Homo sapiens: one gene and its partner. The protein of the gene in region 1 purifies or fractionates together with the protein of each later gene. This does not show direct contact. Each region holds a gene or a part of one and is shown on either strand. Other genes may lie near its edges.

Region 1 (3,750 bases):
TGATATTTTGCATTTTTATAGAGATGGAGACTCCCCATGTTTCCCGGGCTGGTCTGTAACTCCTGAGCTCAAGTGATCCACCCAATTTGGCCTCCCAAAGTGCTGGCATTACAGCAGTGAGCCACCACAGGTGCCACAGTTTTATTTTTATTTATATATTTATTTATTTATTTATTTTTGTGAGTTTTGCTCTTGTTGCTCAGGCTGGAATGCAATGGTGGGATCTCTGGCTCACCACAACCTCCTTCTCCCGGGTTCAAGTGATTCTCCTGTCTCAGGCTTCGGAGTAGCTGGGATTACAGGCACCCGCCACCACACCCGGCTAATTTTGTATTTTTAGTAGAGACAAGGTTCTTCTATGTTGCTCAGGGTGCTCTCAAACTCCCAACCTCAGGTGATCTGCCTGCCTCAGCCTCCCAAAGTGCTGGGATTATGGATGTGAAACACTGTGCCCTGCCTCACCTTGACCTTCTGATCCAACAGAGTCTGGGGGAGCAGAGCCAGGGGCAGGTGTGTCTTCAGGAGTCGTGGGGCCGGTGTGTCTTTCAGAGTCTCCATCCCTGAGCAGTGGGTCAGGGAAGGTCTGGTGAGCTGAAGCCCCAGCCCTGTCTTCCTCCACTCCCCTTGCACCCAGGACACACTCACACACCTGAGGGAATCCCTGGGGCTTTGAACTCAAGGAAGGGCACCCGCATGAAGATGGGAGCTCGGTGACACTTCTCCAGGTCACCACCCTGGTAGATCATGTCCAGAATCTGGCTTACCCAGGTAGTGCCTGGAGAGGGAGGGAGATGGGAGGTGAGCAGGCTGAGGGCACGACCTCGCTGGCCAAGGTGGGGACTGCCACCTGGGAGAGGGTGGGTGGCCCTCCTCACTTACCGGACTTGGGGTAGGTGCTGATGAGCAGGTCATCAGGCCGGGCCTGGAAGCTCTGCAGGGGCCCCAGTGCCTCTGCAAAGTACTTGATGAGCGGGACCCCCTTCACGTACTCCAGTGGCGGGCGGGAGGTGTCCTGGATCAGCTCCATGTTCCTGCGTCAGGGGCCAGAGCCAGGCCCGTTCCCTTACCACCATCACAACAGCAAGAAAGTGGAATTCTTGCTTTCAGGGAAGTCACTGAGGCCTAGGGAGGCTGAGTGACTTGCCCGCACTCACAAAGCCACTCAGTGGCGGGGCTGGGGCTGAAAACCAGGTCGGGCTCTAATGCGGTGGTTCCCCAGCCTGGCCTCACCTTTCATTCACCTGCGGAGCTGTTCAAAATCCCAGGGCCTGGGCCATGGTGCAGACCAGTGAAAGCACCCTCGTCGGGCAAGGCCCAGATGTCAGGGTGTGTGAAGGTCTCCAGGAGAGTCCAGCTGCACTGAGGAAGCTCTAGGACCTTCCTGTGCTGTCTCCCTGCCAGCCAGCGCCCTTTGTCTCACCACTTCCTGCTGGGACCCCCAGCCTCCACCCAGTGGAGATGCTCCCCTCCTTGAGCCCCTCAGCCCCTCACATGTGGAAACCGCCCAGGCCAGCCAGGCCTGTGATCCACTTGCCTGGCCACAGTCCATCTGGGCTCCAGGACAAACACGGCCCATTGAGGAACTGAGCTGCTACTAGGGGCCAGAGCTGCTGTGGGAATGAACAAAACTCTGATGACTCAGCAAAAGCACAGGCCTAGGCAGGGTGGCTCCCACCTATAATCCCAGACCCTAGGGAGGCTGAGGCCAGGAGTTGGAGACCAACCTGGTGCAGCATTGCAAGACCCCATCTCTAAAAATCTTTAAAAAAATTCTTAAACATTAACCAGGCAGGATGATGAGGGCCTGTAGTCCTAGCTACTCCAGAGGCTGAGGCAAGAGAATCACTTGAGCCCAGGAATTCAAGGCTGCAGTGGCCAGGATCCCACAGCACTCCAGCCTGGGTGACAGCAAGACCTGGCCTCCCCGGGGAAAAAAACAAACAAACAAGGGAAGGGAGGGGGATTCACGCAGGCCAGGGTTGTCTGAAATGGGATATCCATGGGGAAAGGGCAGGGATGCCAGAGGCCTCAGCTTCTGGAATGTTAGAGCCACAAGCTGAGCAGGGTGAGGGCGCCCTGGGCCGTTCCACTGTGTCACTCACCTGAGCTCTTGGGAACCTGGCCTCGTGCCCTCCTCGCCCGCAGTGGCTGATTGTGGGTGTTGTGTGGGGAATGCAGGGTTGTTCTCTGAGCTGAGGGTTTCCTAGGTCCACTGTGGGAGGGATCTGGAGCCGGGGCTGGACTTAGATTTGCTTCCGGAAGGAAGGGGTGGGGTTGGGGGTGGGGGAGCTTCTCCATTACCCTCCTTAGTGTGCCAGCTGGAGACAAGCTTAAAGTGATCTCCAAAGCCACGACTGAGTTTGCTGTGTAGAAAACAGAAGAATGAAAGGGGAAAGGCCCAATGGTGGGTTTGTTTTTGTAGGTTTTTTTTTTCTGTTTTTTTTTTTTTTTTTTTTTTTTTTCCGAGCTGTCACTGGGCTCCTGACCTGCCCCTGAACTCCACCCTGCCAGGCAGCCAACAGACAAGCTCTCTCTAATTGACCCAGGCAAGAGAGGGGAGGGATTGGAGGAGAAAGCTGGGATAGGCAGGCCCTGGAAAGGTCACCTACCTGCTGGCTCCAGGCCAGTCTTGAAGGTGCCAGGGGTTCTGGCCCAGTGCAGCCCACAGGCCCCCAGCAGCCCATGCACTCCAGGCTCTGACCACAAGGCCAGTCTAGAGGGATGTGTGTGGGCAGAGTGAAGGGGCAGGGGTGGAGCAGAGCATGGATGCATAGAACAAGAAAGAACAAGGACACTGCAGTCCCATTGCCCTGGGAGTCAGCCCCAGCTTCATGGCTCCTGGGGACCTCAGAGAACATTGATAGAAGATCCTAGAAGAACCACAACCCGTGGCAGGTGGTTTTATTTCCCTGGGTTTGAAGGAGGCTCCACAGACAAGAGACCAGAGGAGGCCGAGGTTTGGAAGCCACAGGGCCCCGTGGAAGGGGGGCATCCCCCCATCCTCCTCGTTCTTTATCCTCACTTTAAAGTCCAAGGTCAAGCTGTGCACGAGACAGGTAAACAACCATCTGAGTAAAGGTGAATCTCCCAAGACTTCCAAGAAATGCGTGAGTTCAGAGGCAAGCGGACAGGTGGGAGTGTGGGGGAAGCTGAGGCATGGGAATTCCAGGCAGAGGAGAGGCTTCTCATATGCTAGGGCCATGGACCCCTCCTCCCTCCTCTGTGCCCATGAGGAATCCCCGTGACTGGCAGGTCCTCAGGCTACTAGCTCCACCCCTGCCCTCAGCAACCCTCAGGAGGTTCCCTTGACTAAGACTTTGTATTGCACTCTAGTAACAACCTGTCGGACCCACACGGGGTGACACAGAAAAGAGGCGAGAATGTGAGATTAATAGAGTGGTAGCAAGTGAATACAAAATCCCAGGCAGCAGTTTCACATGAGGAGAAGAAGGAAACTTGAAATAGCTGCATGCGCTAAGGGCCAATAAGTCCCTGAAAAATAGGATGAGGACCAAGCTGGCTACGACCAACCAGACACAACATGGCGCTGTATTTGATGTAGGTTTCACCTAGGATCTCATTGTATGATCAGTAACATATGAAACCGTACACCCACCAGTGCCAAGACGGCTCCAGGAACACCTGTATTTGGGTGTAAATTGTGGCACCACGGTCTTGAGAAATCTTTACCTTTTCCTGGACTCTTCATGAATATACCCCTCTTTAGTTGAAGAAGCCCATAAAGGTCAG
Region 2 (3,041 bases), on another chromosome or scaffold:
TTAAGCTGCTCGCCGAGAAAGTGGAGGAGATAGTGGCCAAGAACGCACGCGCAGAAATCGACTACAGCGACGCTCCTGATGAGTTCAGAGGCAAGTGGACTCGTCGTTTTCATGCTGATTTCTTTTGAGTTAACTGGAAATCGATAACATTACAAGAGGACGTCCTGTGCAATTAATTTTTTAATGGTGTGCTAGAGCTGCTTTTTGAGACAATCTGTCTTAAATTACATTTGCCTATTTTTAGCTCATATTGTAAATTGAGAGGAAGAAACATCCTTAGCTTAGCCTGACTTAAAGCCAGATAACAACCCTGAAGATTCTAAGGGCAGGGCTGCCTTTGCAAGTGGGGATTCACATTTTCAAAGAATTCCCAGAAGTCCTAAGACAAAGAATTCCAGCCTGCCGTCCTCGCCACGGAGCCTGTGGGGCCTGCTGCTGGGTCTGTCCCAGGCTTTCTTCTCTGTTCCCTCCCCCCAGCAGTAGCTGACAAAGAAGCGCCTTCCCCTTACAAAAGGCAATGTATATGCCTTTATTGAAGGCTGATTTCCTTCTAAACCTGGGGGCCTCACAGGGGCCCTTTGATTGCTGTTCCTTTGGATAGATTTTTCGCTGGTAGAACGGGCTTTGTTTTCTTTTTCAGTCGTGGGCTCTCAGTAGATTAGAGTTTGCTTTGCTTTGTCCCCGCAGACCCTCTGATGGACACCCTCATGACAGACCCCGTGCGGCTGCCCTCTGGCACCATCATGGACCGCTCCATCATCCTGCGGCACCTGCTCAACTCCCCCACGGACCCCTTCAACCGGCAGACGCTGACAGAGAGCATGCTGGAACCAGGTAGAGGAGGGTGCAGTTTGAGGTGCAGCGCTGGCGTCAGTACCAAGAGATAAAGCCCAAGTCACATATTGGAGATGAAGCAGAAGGGAAATTTATCAAATGCAGAAACTACCTACTTTATGACACTCTGTAGCAAAGACCCAAAACACTCTTGGCCCTTTTTCCCTGCAGACATCCAGTCCCTCCCTCTCATGTCCCAGTCCTTCTGGAGTCTTCGGCTCAATGAGGGAAAGAATGGCCTTTTCTTCCCATTTATACAGAGCGACAAGCATCCTCTCTCAGGAAGAGCCCTCCCATCTGGGGCATTAATCCTCCTTTTTTTCTTTTCTCAGTGCCAGAACTGAAAGAGCAGATTCAGGCGTGGATGAGAGAGAAACAGAACAGCGATCACTAAACCGTTCCGCCGCCCACCCTCTGCTAGACACAGCCAAGGCCAACGAGGCAAGCAGAAGCAGCGGCCGCAGCGAAGCTGCCGTTCATGTGTTGGAGGCCAAATGTGGCAAACCAACCCCAGGCCCACCCAGAGCGAGCAAACGCTGAGACCTGAAAGGACATGGATGAGAAGAGGAGCCCGCTTCCTGTACATATATTTAAGTGACAAACACGGTCAAAAGCTTAAGGGACAGGTTTTATGGTTGCTTGTGTAATAAAGCATGTCCTTCGTATGTCACAGTTTGGGGCAACGGAAGTCTTTTAGTGATGGCTAATGGGTCTGGGCAGCATCCCTTCATGAATTTTTTTTTAATCCAATATCCGTTGATTTGATTGTGATTAGAGAACCTTGGACATTTTGCTGCTAAAGAATCTTTTTTCCCCTCTCCCCCTTCCTGACCCTACTTGCACTGCTGTGGATTTTTTTAAGAGAAGCAAAAACAAAAGTAAACTCCTTTCCCTGGCCCTCCAAACATATATTCTGTGAGATAACTGTGCCTGCTACCAAGTGTTAATCCTGGGATCGTATTTTTATATCATATTCACATATTTGTTTTTTTAATTGGTGTTAGATGACATGATTAATAAAAAAGGCAAGATATTTTCAGAATTTGAATTTCAGTTTTTTTTTTCTTTTGAAATGTCCCTTTAAGATTTTTTTATTCTAAACAAAATAAAGAAAATCCTGCTGCTCTGGTCCTTGTGATAAGCCTCTCTTCGGCATCTGAGGAGCAGCTGCAGCAAAATCTAGGGGTGTAAGTGTATCAGGACTTATGTGACTTATATTTTGGGGAGATGAGGGTTGGGTTTTTTTTTTAATGCTACGTGACAGTTTGAAACCTTCACAGTTATCCTCTGGGGGTAAATCAATTCTTCAACCCTTGGGTGTGTGAGTTTGAGGCAGGGTCATTTGTGTGATGTGTTTGGCCTTACCAAAGCAAAAGAGGGTGCAAGAATGTGGGAGTATGTCTGCCGGTTTCAACACACACAGACAAACACAGCCACACGCGCACACAAGTATAAGACTTTTTGTATTACTGCTCCCTACTTAACATACTTGAATTCTCAAATTTCCTTTGGGGTAAAAAAAAAAAAAGGATTTGAAACCATAAAGTGTTCTGAAGAAATTAAGTCTATAAAAAGCATACTTTCTTTTTTCTTTTCCTTTTTTCCCTCCACAGACAATGTCCTCTGTTCAATTCCTAACGCAAACTACAATAAATGGTGACACACGTTCAGAAGAAATCTTCTTTGAGTCTCTTCTCTTTTGTGGAAAAAAAAAAAGGGCAGGGCGGGTGGGTAAACAAGAGCCAAGTGAGTTTGCATGTGGTGAATGATCTTTCCTGGATCCAATTAGGAGCTGCTATTTTTAAAAGAAAACTTTCTTATTCATGTCAGTCTCGACATTTGGTTCTCATTTCACTGTTTGCTGATTTGAGGGGGTAAGCTTTGTCATATTCAGTCTTCTGCCTTTCTTGAGTTTCTTCTGCTTTATCTCAAGTATCTTCCCTGACCTTCAAGATTCTTCCTCAGGCCGGGCCCGGTGGCTCACGCCTGTAATCCCAGCACTTTGGGAGGCTGAGGCGGATGGATCACCTGACGTCAGGAATTCGAGACCAGCCTGGCCAGCATGGTGAAACCCCATCTCTACTAAAAATACAAAAAATTAGCCGGGCGTAGTGGCAGCGCCTGTAGTCCCAGCTACTCGGGAGGCTGAGACAGGAGAATTGCTTGAACCTGGGAGGTGGAGGTTGCAGTGAGCCGAGATGACGTCA

Evidence for each region.
Region 2: the proteins of SULT1A1 (region 1) and UBE4B fractionate together in Homo sapiens (co-fractionation; one large-scale study listed by BioGRID). This does not show direct contact.

The regions. Positions count from the first base shown.
Region 1 is NC_000016.10:28,607,829-28,611,578, forward strand, and holds the start of SULT1A1 (sulfotransferase 1A1), read right to left. Parts: upstream 2,217-3,750; 5' UTR 2,103-2,216; exon of another isoform or gene 1,032-2,102; 5' UTR 1,028-1,031; coding exon 880-1,027; intron 776-879; coding exon 650-775; intron 561-649; coding exon 463-560; intron 1-462. UniProt on the Homo sapiens protein: Sulfotransferase that utilizes 3'-phospho-5'-adenylyl sulfate (PAPS) as sulfonate donor to catalyze the sulfate conjugation of a wide variety of acceptor molecules bearing a hydroxyl or an amine group.
Region 2 is NC_000001.11:10,178,729-10,181,769, forward strand, and holds the end of UBE4B (ubiquitin conjugation factor E4 B), read left to right. Parts: coding exon 1-90; intron 91-687; coding exon 688-834; intron 835-1,166; coding exon 1,167-1,228; 3' UTR 1,229-2,511; downstream 2,512-3,041. UniProt on the Homo sapiens protein: Ubiquitin-protein ligase that probably functions as an E3 ligase in conjunction with specific E1 and E2 ligases. May also function as an E4 ligase mediating the assembly of polyubiquitin chains on substrates ubiquitinated by another E3 ubiquitin ligase.